Homo sapiens: one gene and its partners. The protein of the gene in region 2 interacts with the protein of the main gene of each other region in a biochemical or structural test. Each region holds a gene or a part of one and is shown on either strand. Other genes may lie near its edges.

Region 1 (3,007 bases), about 54 Mb from region 2:
CTGCCCCGGGCGGCAGCCCTGGAGCGGACAGAACCCTCGCCACCCCCTTCAGCTCCCCGGGAGCCCGATGAGGGGCTGCCCTGTCCTGGCTGCTGCCTCGGCCCCTTCAGCTTTGGCTTCCTGTCCATGTGCCCCCGCCCCACACCAGCTGTTGCCCGCTACCGCAACCTGAACTGTGAGGCGGGCAGTCTCCTCTGCCACCGAGGGCACCACGCCAAGCCACCCACACCCAGCCTGCAGCTGCCTGGGGCACGCTCTTAGCAGTGGAGCCCGTGGTCTCAGGCCTCCAACTTTGGCCTTCAGGACACCCTGTAAGAACAGAGCACACTTGCTGGACAGTGCCAGTTCCAGATGGGCTGACCGGCTCTTCTCCCCGTGTAGGGGAGCCCCAGCATGGACTCAAGGGACAGAGCACTTCCAGTCGACCCCCCGGCTCGCGTTCCCGTGGGGATCACTGAACCAGACACAGCATTGCTGACACATGAGACTAACACGTGCAATTATTTAAAAAGATTTCAATAAAACTGCCTGGCTGGCTCCGGGCCGCCCCTATCCGCTCAGCCCGTGCGCCCTCCTCCCCCACCCCATTCTACCATGGGAAGTTCTTGGGGGGAGGCCAAAGTCCCTTCTAGAGGTGGCTTCACCCTTTTCCCAGGAACAGTCCAGTTTCAGGAAGAGGGAGCAGGCAGCAGACTGGCTGGAAGTGTCAGGTGTGGGTCAGCCGGTGGCTGGGCACTGCCCAGAATGAAGGAGATGGTCTGAGGAACCCCAGGCCTCAGGTTAGGAAGGAGGGGCACAGGTTCTTGTTGGCATGAGTGTCTGGAAAAGTAAAGTATCAGTGAGCTCCATGGTTGACTTAACTGAACCCTCATCCCACTCACCCCATCTCCTCCTCAGCTCTCGACAGCCACACCACCAGCCTCCCATAAGTTGTAGGCCTTACCTGTCCCTCCCTGCCCACCCCACCCTAACAAGCAGACCAAGCAACTGGAGGCTGTGGAGGAACTTTCATCCCAGGTACAAGTTTTCTCTCGGGCCCCTGGGCCCCTGCTCTGAGTCCCTGCTCTGAGTCCCTCTGCCCCTGGACTCCCCATGCCTCAGCCCCATCCCTCACTCTTACCAACTCAGTGCAAAGGACTGTCCTAATCTGGAAACCTGAAAGCTGTCATCTCACAGATGTAGGGAAGAGAACTTCTACATGACTCTGACTCCAGTGTCCACCATGACCAAGTTTTATGTACCTTGTTACATTTTGAGCTTTGAGCATAAGTCCTAAAAAGTAGTAAGGTAGAGCTGGGATATGCTCTGGACATATCCCACCCTCCCTTCTCTCCCCTTCCCCTGTATAAAACCTAAATCCTAACTCACCCTGCCTGCCTAAGGCCACATCTGGGCATGGTTCAGGACAGATGTCTGGAGTTCAACTAAAACAGACTTTAGAACCAGCAGAGGGAAAAATAACTCGAGATCTTAAAGATGGGAAGGCCAGGCTGGGCACGGTGGCTCATGCCTGCAATCCCAGCACTTTGGGAGGCCAAGGCGGGTGGATCACAAGGTCAGGACATCGAGACCATCCTGACTAACACGGTGAAACCCCGTCTCTACTAAAAATACAAAAAATTAGCCGGGCATGGCGGTGTGCGCCTGTAGTCCCAGCTGCTGGGGAGGCTGAGGCAGGAGAATGGTGTGAACCCCTGAGGCGGAGCTTGCAGTGAGCTGAGATTGCACCACTGCACTCCAGTCTGGGCGACAGAGCGAGACTCCATCTCAAAAAAAAAAAAAAGATGGGAAGGCCAATTGAGGAACATAAGGAGGTTGCCACCCTGTTTCAGGGTCCCTAGGGTTGATCCTCAATGGTACCCCACTGCTGTCTTGATCACAGTGAAGTGGAGCTTCGATGGTACCCCCGCTGCTCCCTTGCGTACTTCACTGAGGCAGCTCTAGTGCCCCAAGTGGCCGCTACTGAGAAAGTACAACCTCAGTTTGGGTGGCCTTCTCGAAGGATGGAGAAACGCTGCTGTCATCAGCTGTGGAGCCTTAACTAAATCCTTAATGTCTCCCCCTAAAAGATAGCGTAGGTCCCAACCTAGTAGTTACTGAAACAAAAAAGTATGTGCCAGGGACTTCTAGGTGGAAATAGAATGGAGAATAAGATTGCCCTAAGAAGTTATTAATCAAATAGAGGAAACAGACAAATAGGCAATTACAGTGTTGATTTATGGGAGAGTCCTGAGGGGACCAGGTGGGAAGGAAATCTGATTACCATGTCTTTATGGAGGGGATTATGGAGTTGAAAATACCCAGAAGTCCTAACAAACTTACCTAGTGCGTTGTGTATCATCAGTCAACTTCCAATCCTTGTTAGAGCTGAGGCCAGTCCAATATGAATTCCCTGAACCACCATTTGGCAACAGTGAATTTAAGAAGTAGTAAGAGTGCTGAGGGGAGATTCAGAGAGACCAGAGATACATGGAGAGTGATGAGAAATATGGAAGAAAATGCACACCCTAGGGAGGCCTCAGCTTTGGCAAGGGGGCTGTATATATGACAGCTCTTTGGTAACTTGTCCCTGAATCCATCAAGTGCCACCCTGCAGATGCAGGCTCACTGCTAAATTTGCCTTCCAGCTGAGTAAGAATCTCTGCCAGCCTTTGGAGGGGAGTCATTCTGTGTGCTGTTCTGGCCCCAAGGAACTAATCCCTACAATCCAGCCCACCAGGTGTGGGACCTCTCTGCCTGAGAGGCCACAAGAGTCCAGGAACCTGTCAAGCAGCCCAGGGAGCTGACCAGCAAGCTGAGATGAGATACACATTAAAGTAGAGGCCGGGCGCAGTGGTTCACACCTATAATCCCAGCACTTTGGGAGACTGAAGCAGGTGGATCACCTGAGGCCAGGAGTTAGAGACCAGCCTGACCAATATGGTGAAACCCCGACTCTATTAAAAATACAAAAATTAGCTGGGCGTGGTGGCATGTGACTGTAGTCCCAGCTACTCAGGAGGCTGAG
Region 2 (4,636 bases):
TTCAGCTCACACTTGACGTCAAAGGGCTTGTCCCTGGCAGAAAGGTCGTCGATCCTCTGTGAGTCCTCCCTATCCGTGGGGACTTTGCTGGTGATGGTGTCTTGCTCGGTCTCATAGCCGGTGTCCAGGGCTGGCTTGGGGTGCTCCCCATTCTGCTGGGAGAAGCTCCCTGGCTCTACTAACGTCTCCTTCAGGCTCTGCTCACGGTCACAGAAATCTGACTTGGGCTTCTTCTTCCCAATTAGTAGGGCCGAGCGGAATTTCAAGCACTGTCTGGGCAGGTATCCCTTATAGCAGTTGTAGAAAAAGAGGCAGAGGAAGAGAACAAAGAAGAAGAGGAAGAGGGACATGAGGAGGCGGTTGTCGCTGGACTTAAGATACATGGTTTTCTCCGAGTGGAGCTGGGGGACCGTGTTGATGACGATCTTTGGTTCGCAGGATGTGCCGGTGGGCGCAGGCTTGGGAGGAAGGGTGATGGCCCCGGAGGAGGTGGCCTGCACGGCTGGGGTTGGGGGAGAAGACCCTTGGGTGGATGCCACCAACACTTTGGTGGCAATCCTACTACCTTCTGTCTGAACAACTGACAAGGTGGGGGCCACTACGGGCTTTGGAACCACCTTCACTTCCAGGACGTGCTTGGCGACCACTTGGAAGACCGTTTTGTTCTTAACCCTCTCCTCTGACAGGCACTGGTACACCCCACTGTCTCCTTCTGACAAGTTGAAGATGAGCAAGTTTTTTCTGCCCATAAGACCGTACTTGGGGCTCTCGGCCTTCAACACGCCATTCTGGAACTTCCAAAAGACCCGGGCCAGGTTGGATTTTTGGGAGCATTTCAGTTCCGCTGTGCCACCGTGCTTGAAAAAATGCTGCCGGTAACTTCCTTTACTTTTATCTGGAACATCAAAATAAACGTGCACAGCGTCAACAATCCCCATTTGCTATTTAACAACTTCTTTAAAATACCCACAAGATGACGCAAGAGTTTCACCCACTGTAGCAACATGGAATCTTCCAGAACAACTAAGGAGATAAAGACATGCGTGACCAAAAAGCAAAGATGAGCCCTGGATGACAGCCCATGGGGACAAAGAAATTGGAGGCAGCTCTGAGCAGCAGAAATCCCATTTCTCACCCGTGTCCCAGAAGAAAACGCGTCAGGCTGGGGAAGCTGAGCAGAGGCCAGTTCTGTGCCTAGTGTCAGCTCTTTGAATCAGACACGAGACGCTTCTGCTAATGGCTGCAAGGAAGACTGGCCTTTCAGTGCATCTCAGCACTCTCCTCCTGCCTAAACTTTTCTTTTTTTTCTTTTTTTTGAAACAGGGTCTGGCTCTGTTGCCCAGGCTGGAGTGCAGTGGTGCAATCACAGCTCACTGCAGCTTCAACCCCCCCAGCTCAAGGGATCTTCCCACCTCAGTCTCCAGAGTAGCTGGGACTACAGGTGACCACCTCCAGGCCTGGCTAATTTTTGTATTTTTTGTAGAGACAGGGTCTCACCACGTTGCCCAGGGTAGTCTCGAACTCCTGAGCTCAAGTGATCCTCTTGCCTCAGACTCCCAAAATGCTGGGATTACAGGCATGAGCCACTGTGCCCGGCCAGCTTTTGTTTTCTTTTTAGAGTCTGGGTCTCACTTTGTCACCCCAGGCTGGAGTGCAGTGGCATGATAAGCTCACTGAGCCTTGAACCCCTGGGCACAAGCAATCCTCCTGCCTCAGCCTCCCTAGTAGCTGGGACTACAGGCGTGTACCACCATGCCCAGCTGCCTAAACCTTTCTTAGTCTGATGACAGCTGTCTTGTCAGGGTCAGGAAGACACAGAACTGAGGGTCAAGTCTGCCTTTAGCACCCTGGAAGGTGGCTGCTGGGGAAGGGGCATCTGGCCTGATGCCACCCCTCCCTCTGGGTGTGGTGCTATTTCAGACATCCACAGGCGGGTGAATCCCAGGTGGGAGCCCCAGGGGAAACACCACCCCAGCCCTTACACTGCCTGAGGATTAATCACTCATGGGCTCCTTTCTCCCCATTTATAACAGGCTTAGGTTTTGCTTAATGAGCCCCAAGCTAAGCAGAAAGAAAACAGGATGGTTTTGGAAGGAGACTGCTTCCCAGTAAGCAGATACACTCTAAGTGGCTTCAAGTACTCTTTCGGCAAGAAAAAAAGACAGAGAAGACCACGAGTCTGCTACAGAACACTTGACCTCTGTTCCGAGTGGAGAAAGAAAAACAAAACACACACAAATGCCACAGAACTGAAGCACCGTGAAATGGCTACAAGACCTCGCCACTCCCAAAGGAAATGGGACGTCGAGGAGTCACTCACCCGGGCACACAGAAGCATCGCCGCTCATCTCCTGAATCAAACCCCTGCAAAACAACCGGCACGTGTTATTCACCCACACACATGGGGGACATCCCCAGGCAGCGCATCCCGCCCCATACCTGCTGGGGCTCTCGGTCTGGTGCAGAGCCACGCAGGTCGCTGTGGGCGGGCTCCAGGCGCAGTAGGGGTCCCGCGCCAGCACACAGTCCTCGCAGGTGCCGTGCTTCCCACAGAAGGCCAGCGGGGCCTGGACCACGCCCGAGTTAGAGCCAGCATAGACAAACCTGTTGCCCTGCGTGTATGAGACAGAGAAGAACTAGCATCAGGCAAGCAGGCATCCAGGAGCATGGCCTCTGCTTCTGCACCAGTGTGTGGGAAGCAGCCAGAGTGTACCTTCAGGGGACATTGCAGTAAGGAGGAGAGGTACTCAGAACCAGAGGCAAACAAGGCAGGTCTGTGACCTTCCTGCAGAATCCACGTGCTATGTCAGGGCTCACTGGGCCTTAGGTCCAAATCCCTCTCTCCCCTGTCTGGGCACCCACAGGTGCCTGCCCTCCAGCAAAGCGCTTCTCTGCACGTGTTTCTCTTAGCCAGTGGGGAGGCTGTTCAGTCCCCACCTCCAGATCTCCTCCCTGCAGCAGAGGATGCATGAGCCTGGCACTCCCGGTCATCTTCCCGGCCTCACTATAGGTGAGAAGGGGCTGCAGCCAGAGGCTGAAGCACACCACCTCGAAGCCCAACCTCGTCCCCCGAGCCAGAATGTGAGCACCTGTGGGCGGGGAGCCTCTCGTGAGGGTCTGGATCCAGCAGAGGCCTAACATAACAGGGATGCCAAACGGACGACATGCAAAGGATGAGGAGATCGTGATACAAAACATAAAAAAGGAACAATGCCTTTTGCTTTTCACTTATCTATATGTAAAAGGGAAGAGCTCACAGACGGGAAGTCAACCTCCGAGCTCCAGAGCAGCCACACCCACAGCAGAGGGCAGGTGAGACTCTCCCACCTTCTGGGACACTTGGTTCCCAGTGACACCAGCTTCAGGTCCATCCCATCAGCCCACCTGGCACCAGCAGTGCCCAGCACACAGGCATCCAGGGCTGCTGACTGCTTTTGAACGGAACTCAGCTGGAAGGAGGGTGCCCCACATGCAGTGCACCCACCTGAAGCTCGGGGGCGTGCAACAGACCTGGAGGTGGCCCGTGGAGCGCGCTCTCTAGCCTCTGCCCAGGGCATCTGCCTCAACAGCCTGGGGACACCTTTTGGTTAACAATACAAGATTCCCAAATTTACACATGACTTAGTGGTTTACAGTCAGATGAAACACGACCTTCATCCTCAGAGGATACGCTCGGAGTCAACTTCAGAGTGTGGTTGGAAGATCACAGGCCCTGATGCCAATACAGGAAGCCCCAGGCCACACATCCAGCTGTGCGGACACAGACCCACGAGAGAAAGGGAAAGCCCCCAAGGATGGAAACTGTGATAATACACAGCAGAGGGAACCTGGCCCGCCGCTGGCCTCACAGCAGCAGCAGCAGCAGAGACCTGGGCAGATGAGGCCATGTGTGAGCCACGTTTGTGGGAAGGATTGAGGATGACATCCCAGATCACAGTTCGGGCATCGCGCGGCTTGTGGAGGTGGCGGAAACATTCTCTGGCAGCAAAGCCAAGCTGGGTAACTTCCAAGGGACAGCTGGTCCTGTTGGGTCCCGCGGGGGGCACCTGCGAGGTGGCGTGAACACCATGCAGTGCAGAGCAGGGTGCCCTGGGTGGCCAAGTGGGGCCCGCCTGACTCCTCACCCCAAAGAGAGGCTTGAGGGTAGCTGTGGAGGGTGGGGTGGGCTCTGGGGGGCAAGGCCTGTCCCAAGGGGATCCAGACCACCTCCTGCACCCTGCGGGAGACTCAGCCCCAGCTTCCGCTTCTCCCGGATGGGGCTGGGCTGCAGCCCAAATGAAACTAAGCTGTAAAAACTAAACGACGCCACACAGAGACCAAGGGATGACTGTGGAAGGGAAGAGGGGACAGGGAAGGAGGAACTGGTCGTCAGGACAGCCAGCTGTAACTGCTGCAGGCAGGACCCACTGGTCGATGTGGATGTCAGTGGGTGGGAGAACAGGGCATTTCTGTAGCCTCCAAGTCTGTCCCTGCAAATAAGCATGAATGACTGTGGGGGTTTCCCACATGACTCCCCTGGGAGGTGGGGCTCACTCTCCCCCACCCCCAGTGTGGACTACATGCCCCGACACACTCGACATGGAAAAAGACGGTGGTGACTTGGACAGAATGACCAAGGTCATCACGCTGGTGCGAG
Region 3 (3,541 bases), on a different chromosome or scaffold from region 2:
GTGTGTGTTCATGTCCTGGTCGCTGACCTGCACCATCTGCCGGATCCCCTTGTAGTAACTGCAGGGGTGGGAGCATCATACAGTGTGGGCGGCAGGGACCACAAAGGGGGTGGTGGGGGAAACCAAGGCCTGAACCTCCCCGCAGGGGGTCGAGGGTGGGCATGGGGGCCTGGCCTGGAGGGCAGGCAGACTTACTCCTCCACCATCTTCTTGTAGGTGGAGATCTCCTTGGCGTACAGCAGCTTGTTGCTGGGAGAATCCTGTTGGGGACAAAACCCAGTGATGCCTGGCCAAGGGGGCCAGGCTGGGGCTGCTCAGAGTACCCCTGGGTAGCTTCCCCTGCCCCGAACTCCTGACACTTTCATCAAGAAAACTATGGGCCGGGCGCAGTGGCTCAGGCCTGTAATCCTAGCACTTTGGGAGGCTGAGGCAGGCAGATCACCTGAGGTCAGGGGTTCGAGACCAGCCTGCCCAACATGGTGAAACCCCGTCTCTACTAAAAATACTAGCCGTGCGTTGTGGCACATGCCTGTAGTCCCAGCTACTCAGGAGGCAGCGGCGGGAAAATCGCTTGAACCTAGAAGGCGGAGGTTGCAGTGAGCAGAGATCGCGCCACTGCACTCCAGCCTGGGCGACAGAGAGAGACTCCATCTCAAAAAAAAAAAAAGAAAACTACTTATTTTGTGATCTGTAGTAAAACTCAGTTTCTCTGCTCGTGTGCTGTGGTGAGAGGTCTCAGGAGGAGAGAGGGCAAGGGCTCTCGGGATCTCCCAGGCTCTGCCGGGCCCCTGTGCCCCCAGCCTCCGCCACCCGTCACCTCCTACATCAAGGGCTCCAGCCCAAGATATTCAAATCCACACCCCAGACAAGGTCCCAACTCACAAGATGCCTCCTGGGGACAGACCCAGGCCTCCCTGCCCCAGACCTGCCCCCACCCCACTCACGCGGCTCAGCTTATGCTCCGTGCGCGTGCAGGCATCCATGAAGGTCTGCGCGATGACTGACAGCGAGGCGTCCACCACCTCGTGGACATGCACGTCAAAGATGAAGTGGGGGTTCTTGAGGATGTTCACCCAGAACCGGAGCGGTAAGCTGAGGCAGAGCAGCAGGGAATGAGAGCCGGGGCTGGGCCGCGGGGTGGGTGTGGAGCCTCCCAAGTGAGAGGCGGAGCCGGGGCTGGGCCGCGGGGTGGGTGTGGAGCCTCACCTGTTCGTCTTCCAGATGTGGATGGTGTCTTCATCCTGGATGTTGTGCTTCTCTGCCTGCTCGTCCAGGAAGTCGAAGAAGTACTTGACTGCAGGTGGCACCGCGTGCCCAGGCGCCAGCACGCTCTGGAAGAAGTTGTCCACAAACTGCTGCAGTGTGCCCTGTGGGGGGGAGGGTCTCAGCGTGACGCCGTGGGCGCGGCTCCTGGGGGGGAGGGTCTCAGCGTGGCGGCCTGGTGCCGCCCACACACCCATGGGGGCCCACCTTGACTGAGAGCAGCCGCGTCAGGTAGATCTCGGTGATGGCCTTCGTCCGCTCCTTCTCTTTCACGCTGCCTCTCTTGGACTTGCCCTCGTCCACCTCGTCGGTCGGCCGCACCAGGTGCCACACCCGGTTCTCCTCCTCCAGGAGGGCATGGCCTGTGGGGAGCGGGCACTGAGGGACCCCTACCCAGGTCTGGGGGCCTGGGTCCCACAGGGAGCAGTGGTGGCAGGGTGGGCAGGGGTGCATGTGTCCAGGGCAGACATGGTCCACGCTGACCACCAGGGGCTGGAAGGAAACGGGCAACAGGGAGGGACTCACGCTCCCCAGGCAGGTCCTGCTGGCTGTCCTCCGGCTGCTGGGAGACCCCCACCTTGGACAGGATGAGGGTGGCTCCATCCCGGACCTGGGGAACACGGCGGTGAGGGTGGGCTGTGCCCCCAGGGTGCCCAGTTCTCGCCCGCCCCGGCCTACACGCTCACATTGTAGTGCATAAGGGTGTTGACGCGCTTCCACCGGCCCTCCCGCTGTGACGTCAGGTCCAGGTCCGACAGGATCTGCGCTGTGGAGCCCGGACGCCACTCTGTGGGAAGAGACAGCCCAGCTTGGGCCCCAGCCACCCAGGTTCCTCCCACTGCCCACCACTCCCATATGAGAAAGCTGGCCAGGCAGGATACCGCCCCAGGACACAGGCCAGGCACATGGGCGCCTGTGTGCAGACGGGCAGGGGCCGGCACTCACCCAGGACCACGCTGTCTGGCCTGGGCCAGCAGGAGCAGGGCTGCCCACGGTACACCTGGTCAATGATCTTCTCCTTGACCTGGGAGATGGTGTCACAGTTGAGGACCTTCACCGGGATGGCGTCCACTCCCTCGTCCTGCACGATCACGCTCACCGTCTGCCGAGACATCCGGGATGAAGCCCAGTGGGAGGCCCTGCTCTTACCTGCACCATGCAGGAGCCACTCCCTGCCCCGCCAGCTTTGCCCACCACAGCGGCACCCTTGGGCAGCAGGCCCCCGCCAGCCCGGCTCCGAGCCCCCGAGGCTTCCCAGATGACCACACTCTGCCCTTCCCCTGCCTGCTCCGGCTCAGCAGGACAGAAAGACGGGGACGGCTCAGAACCGCTCACTCAGGCTGTCACGCAAGCTCATGGAAGCACATGTACAGACACAGAATACACACGTCTCACACATGCACAGGCTCCTGCCACACCCACTGGTCATGTATGCACAGAACCCTGGACACACCTGGTGTGCCAGGCCCTTGTATGGCCTCCAGGAGGTGGGGGCGCCCGGGAAGAGCTGATGCGGGGCCCGCACACTTAGAGCCTCCAGAGCCCACAGCCACCAGCACCCAGGCCCCTCCCTGAGGCCGAGTTAGAGCAGGCTGTAACTCGAATCCACAGAGGAGGTGGACGGCCTCTGGCCTGTGGGTCCCATCTGTGGCCAGGGGATGCCCAAGCTCCTTAGCCCAGATCCGAGGCGCCCATGGCGGCCCCCACCCCAGAAGCTCACCAGGGGTGCGTACTCCACATCATCCCCCAGCAGCCCCGTGTCGTTGAGAGTGTACTTGGCCTTCTTCTGTACCGCATCCACCGGGCCCTTTTCCACCTGATGTTTGATGGCCTTGAAGAGCTTGTACAGGGGCTCCCCGGCACTGTCCTGGAGTAACACGGAGGGGAGGCTGGGAGGTCAGGGGACTTGGGGCCTGGAAGGGGCCCCCGGAGCCCTGGCCAGAGGCATGGACGGGGCTGACCATGTCAGGGGCAGGAAGCAAACCTGTCCAGGCAGGGCCCACCTCAAGGTGCCGTACAGATAGGGGAACGCAGGAGGGGATGGCAGCAGTCTGCCTCATCCCTCAAGCCCCAGCCAGGCTGGGGTGGAACCCACCTTGAGGTACTGGTACAGGCAGATGGACATCCAGTTGGACAGCATCCTCTCCACCACAGTCTCAGACCTGGGGGTGCAGGGAGGCCTTGTACCGAGTGACCCCGTAGTATTCCTGAGGCCCAACTGACTCCTCCAAGCACCCGGCCACCCTTGCGCCAGCCTCGCCCCTGTCCAGCCTGGGTG
Region 4 (4,249 bases), on a different chromosome or scaffold from region 2:
AGGCGGTTCACTGCGCCGACATAGAGTGTGCCTCGGCCAGGTGCCAGTGCCAAGTGGTTGAGAGTGGTATTAGGTGCGGAGAAGCGATGGGCCCCTGTCAAGGGCAGTGGCGGTGGGGACAGCAGCAGCAGGAGGAGGCAGAGGCCGAAGGGAGGCCAGCGAGCCATCACGGGGGCCTGTGAGAGGGCACAGGTCAGGGCAGTGGGAGCGCAAGGCAGATAGAGGACCAGAGGAAGGTGGAAGGTGGGGTGGACAGAGGCCAGGGTGCTCAGGGCCAGGGAGGGAGGGAGGCAGAGAGATGGAGAATGAGAGAGAGTGAGCGGAGACAAGGAGACAGAGGGGGCACAGAGAGAGGGGGACATAAGGAGGGACAAAGACAGTGTCCAAGAGCTGGAGCAAGAGGCAGGGAGGGGTGCATGCACGCACGCACAAGCACACAAGGACAGAATTCTTTCATCTCCTACTTTATATGCATGTAGATTGTTGAAGGGGGGCAGGTCCTGGAAAGCCGCAAGAGCGCTAACAGAGGGACTGTGAGTCACAGAGGGGGCAGGGATGGAGAGAGGGCAGGGGAGGGAGGGAGGCCGCGGGAGCTGGAAGGCTGGCGGAAGCTGTGTCACAGCGCGCCCCTGCGCCCACCACCCAGACAAGAGAGATCTAAGTCAGGTGAGAGGAGTGAGGCCACCGTGTGCCCCAAGGGACCAGACAGGGAGAGAAAACCTGCCTTGGGCAGCCAGGGCCGGCTGCAAGGAGGAACCCTCCGCAGCTGGGGGAAAGAGCCAGGCAGCCGCGGGCTGAGCAAGGAGCAAGTCAGCGAAGAGGCAGGGGTGAGCTCCATGCTGGCGCCCAGCTCCAGGGCGAGGAAGCACTGGGGCAAGGCAGCGGGGGTGCTGGGAGAAGCCAGGGGTGTCAAGAGACAACACAGGCTTCAGGGGTGCGGGGAGGCCTGCTCCTGCCCCATGGGCCCCAGCAGTTTGGGTCTCTCAGGGCCTGGCACAGGGGGCCTCAGTGTAGGAGTGTCCCAGGAGAAGAGCAGACCAGGAGAGCTGGCTGGGGGAGGGGTCAGGGAAGGGGCAGGGAGGGGTGCCAGACTGGAGATGGTTCCTGGGTGTGCCTGGTGGGACCCCGGGGTGAGCCCCCGAGGGTGAGAGGTGGGAGCAGCCCCTTCTCTGGCCCCTCCTGCCCTCCACAGAGAGATGCTGCCCTGGGTGTGTGGTCACATGCCGACCAGGAGTGGGGCCGCTGCGACTCAGGGCAGAGCAGCGCCTGGAGGAAGGCCCAGGAGCCGCTTATCTCAGGAACACAGGCAGGAAGAGCACGGACACTTCCTGCGGACCCCGGGCTATCTGGGGCAGTGTCTGCCATGAGGGAGGCTGCAGCCTGTATGTCCTGGGCCTGGCCACAGCCATCCTGCCCTACCCTGCCCCTCCCAGGAACATTTCTGGGGACACCGGGCCTGGGCACTTACCATGAAGTGGTGCAGCAGAGGGGTCTCCTGGGCGGCGTGGCACATACGCTCAGTTCAGCTGCCCCAGGGCAGTGGCGATGGGCATGAGATGGCTGCGGGGGGGCATTGTCCTGAGTGGGAGGGAGACAGTCGAGGCTCAGCCCCATTCGAGCTGGCCTGGGGAAGGAGGGGCGGCGGTGGGGGTGGCGCCCAGGGCCTAGCGACCGGGCTCCCTCACAGCTGGCAGCTTTGTCAATAGTGGCCAGGCCAAGGCAGCCCTGCCTCCACCACAACAATGTTCCCTCTGTCCAGAGGCCAGGCCAGGGCCCCACTCGCTAGTGCTGTCACCCCCACTGGGCTGTTCTGGACAGGGGGCTCCTTGCCACTTCCCACCCTCAGGGAGCCACCCCCGGGATCCGGGGACAAAGGGCCGGGGTTTCCTCCAGCCAGCCCTCCCCCTCTGGCCCTGCAACCCCTGTGTCACTAAGCATGCCCCTCCCTGGCTCCCCGGGTCCCTGTGAAGGGCACGGGGTGGACCTTGGAGCCCCTGCAAATGCCGGCTGGTAGCCTTGGGGCCTGGGTGAAGTGCCAGTCCTGGCCCTCAATGCCTGCCTTTGTCCAAAAGATCTTCCTCCACACCCCCAGCCCAGCCCTGCCCCTGGGGACTGGTGAAGTGGTGCCAGGTACAGCATGGTGGCAGCGAGCAGGACCACGGGAGGAGGCTGCTTGAGATGGGCTGAGGCAGAGGGTCCACAGGCCGGGGCTGTCCACCCCACCCTCTGAAGCACCGTCCTGCTGGCCTAGATGCCATCCATGCAGGGGATGGGGAAGGGAGGGGCACCTAGCAGCTAGACCCCCTGTCACCCTCACAGGCCACCCTGGCCAGTGGCACAGGAGCAGGTGCACTGGGGATGGGGTCTCTGCCTCCCCCACAGCACGGCAGCAGTAGGCTCCAGGGCAAGGTGGCAGTGGGCTGCTGTCACCTGGCTGGGCCAGTTGGGTGGCTGTGGGGGTGGGGAGCCAGGCGGGCAGCCTCTCTACCCTGTACCCTGCCCGAGGCTGGCGTTGGCTTTCCCATTTCGGGGAAGAAACATGGTTCCCCACCTCCTAACCCCAGGGCTACCACTTGGGGGACACCGTGCTCCCAGACACCTAGTGCCGTCGTCAGGCTGGGCCGACACCCGAGCGCTCTTGCCTGACCCCAGCCAGTTGGCCCTGAGACCCTGATGCCTTGCCCTGAGGCTGGTAGCCCCTGCACCCCAAGCCCAAGCCCAAGCCTGCCCCAGCTCTTGCCTACCTGGTGGGCCACCGGCGAGGGCCAAGTAGCAGCTGGCGGTGCCAGGAGCACGTCTCACAGAGCCCCAGCCTCCCTCCCCACAATGCAATCGTGCCCAGTCCGACTCATCCCAACAAGCCCGGCCAGGCAGCCCAGCCTCTCTCCGCCCGCCCCTTTGCCCAATGGCACAGGGCAGGATGTTGCTGCCCTCTGCTGGCCGCAGCGGGCATGATGGAGTACTGACCGTGGGCACCTGGCAGGTGAGAGACGGCAGCGCCCTCCTATTGGGTGGGCATTCCATAACCTGGCACGAAGCACCTACTGGATGCCAGGCTTGGGCTTGGCACTGGCACCATCCAGAAACAAACACAGGTTGGGAAACTGAGGCACAGGAGGTTAGGAAACTTGAATAAAGTCACACAGCTAGTATGTGGCAAGGCTGAGTCAATCACAGGGCCCCTTCACTTAACCGTCAGGCTACATGACCTTGAACCATGAACCTTGGCAGGCGTTGGGCAGGAGATGGAGCTGAGGCCTACCCCAGGCCAGGCCTGGACGTGACATGCCCACGTGGCGTTGAGGAAAAACCAGTGTTTCCCACCGACTGGAACACAAGGTTGGTCAAGGGCCGTCTCCCAGGGTGTGGCGGAGGTCAGCAAATCAGGTGGGGTCTTTGTGGCCAGGCTTGAGAACTTGAACTTGTCTCGCCATGGGCAACTGCAAGCTGGTGGCACTGGGGCAGAGAATGTGGGGAGGCCTGGTCCAGTGGTGGTCATGGGCATGGAGAGAGGCGGGCGCGTTCTAGAGGCGCTCTGGGGAGGCAGCATTCTGAAGACTGTGCGTTGGACCCAGGGCAGGAGGCGAAGGCAGGAGAATCCAGGCGACCCTGGGGCTTTTCTGCTGGGGCACTGTTCCCCCTGTGGCAGGGCCATCCACAGAGGGGCTGGCGGAAGTGGGAGGACGGTAAGACTGAGGGGCCCATGAGGGAGGAGGAAATGGTGATGGGGCTGGGGAGGCCTGGGGGTGAGAAGCTTGGCTCAGGTGGCTGGAGCCCTGGGGGCGGCCAGGGTATAGGGCCAGGTGTTGGCCCTGGAGCTCAAAGGCCCAGCAGACTCGGGGTATGGGTGCTTCCCTGAGCAGCTGTGTCATTCTTTCCAACCTGCATGGAGAGAAATGGGGCACAGAGGTGGGTAACTTGCCCAGGGCCATGACCTGACGTCGTTTCTTCAGAGTGCATTCCACAGAGATGGGATTTGAACCTGGGCATTCTGGCACGGGCCACGCTCTGGACCACTGGGCCCCAGATCCACAGCTTCTCACCTGCAGCCGCTGAGGATGTGGAGGCAGACCAGGCAGGCCCGTGGGAAGGACCACCAAAAAGCGAGTGAGCAGCCGGCGAGGGGTCTCTCCCCAACAGGAAGGCCAGGCAGCCTTGAAGGAGCCAGGGAGGGATTTAGAAGCTCCAGGAGGGGAGGCTTGGGGGAGCCAGCTGGCCTCTCTCCCTCTCCCTGTCCTTCCCCCCATGC

Evidence for each region. Proteins that work in one complex are often made in the same cells at the same time.
Region 1: the proteins of SEMA4D (region 2) and CD72 form a complex in vitro, tested with the Homo sapiens proteins (2 studies listed by BioGRID and IntAct).
Region 3: the proteins of SEMA4D (region 2) and PLXNB2 form a complex in vitro, tested with the Homo sapiens proteins (one large-scale study listed by IntAct).
Region 4: the proteins of SEMA4D (region 2) and PLXNB3 form a complex in vitro, tested with the Homo sapiens proteins (one large-scale study listed by IntAct).

Annotation. Positions count from the first base shown.
Region 1 is NC_000009.12:35,609,482-35,612,488, forward strand, and holds the end of CD72 (B-cell differentiation antigen CD72), read right to left. Parts: intron 2,439-3,007; coding exon 2,323-2,438; intron 1,273-2,322; coding exon 1,143-1,272; 3' UTR 1,121-1,142; intron 820-1,120; coding exon of another isoform or gene 669-819; 3' UTR 501-668; downstream 1-500. Other genes in the region: TESK1 (dual specificity testis-specific protein kinase 1), read left to right, coding at 1-261. UniProt on the Homo sapiens protein: Co-receptor of B cell receptor (BCR) that plays both positive and negative roles on B-cell functions. Recognizes the Sm/ribonucleoprotein (RNP) self-antigen ligand, and coligation of CD72 and BCR inhibits BCR signaling.
Region 2 is NC_000009.12:89,378,735-89,383,370, forward strand, and holds part of SEMA4D (semaphorin-4D isoform 1 precursor), read right to left. Parts: exon of another isoform or gene 2,694-4,636; intron 2,613-2,693; coding exon 2,440-2,612; intron 2,365-2,439; coding exon 2,321-2,364; intron 896-2,320; coding exon 1-895. UniProt on the Homo sapiens protein: Cell surface receptor for PLXNB1 and PLXNB2 that plays an important role in cell-cell signaling. Regulates GABAergic synapse development. Promotes the development of inhibitory synapses in a PLXNB1-dependent manner.
Region 3 is NC_000022.11:50,276,647-50,280,187, forward strand, and holds part of PLXNB2 (plexin-B2 isoform 3 precursor), read right to left. Parts: intron 3,426-3,541; coding exon 3,359-3,425; intron 3,131-3,358; coding exon 2,984-3,130; intron 2,366-2,983; coding exon 2,209-2,365; intron 2,051-2,208; coding exon 1,950-2,050; intron 1,874-1,949; coding exon 1,789-1,873; intron 1,626-1,788; coding exon 1,471-1,625; intron 1,368-1,470; coding exon 1,207-1,367; intron 1,093-1,206; coding exon 945-1,092; intron 261-944; coding exon 196-260; intron 59-195; coding exon 1-58.
Region 4 is NC_000023.11:153,762,800-153,767,048, reverse strand, and holds the start of PLXNB3 (plexin-B3 isoform 1 precursor), read right to left. Parts: upstream 2,801-4,249; 5' UTR 2,745-2,800; intron 1,579-2,744; 5' UTR 1,514-1,578; coding exon 1,469-1,513; intron 891-1,468; exon of another isoform or gene 839-890; coding exon of another isoform or gene 725-838; intron 667-724; exon of another isoform or gene 578-666; intron 177-577; coding exon 1-176. UniProt on the Homo sapiens protein: Receptor for SEMA5A that plays a role in axon guidance, invasive growth and cell migration. Stimulates neurite outgrowth and mediates Ca(2+)/Mg(2+)-dependent cell aggregation.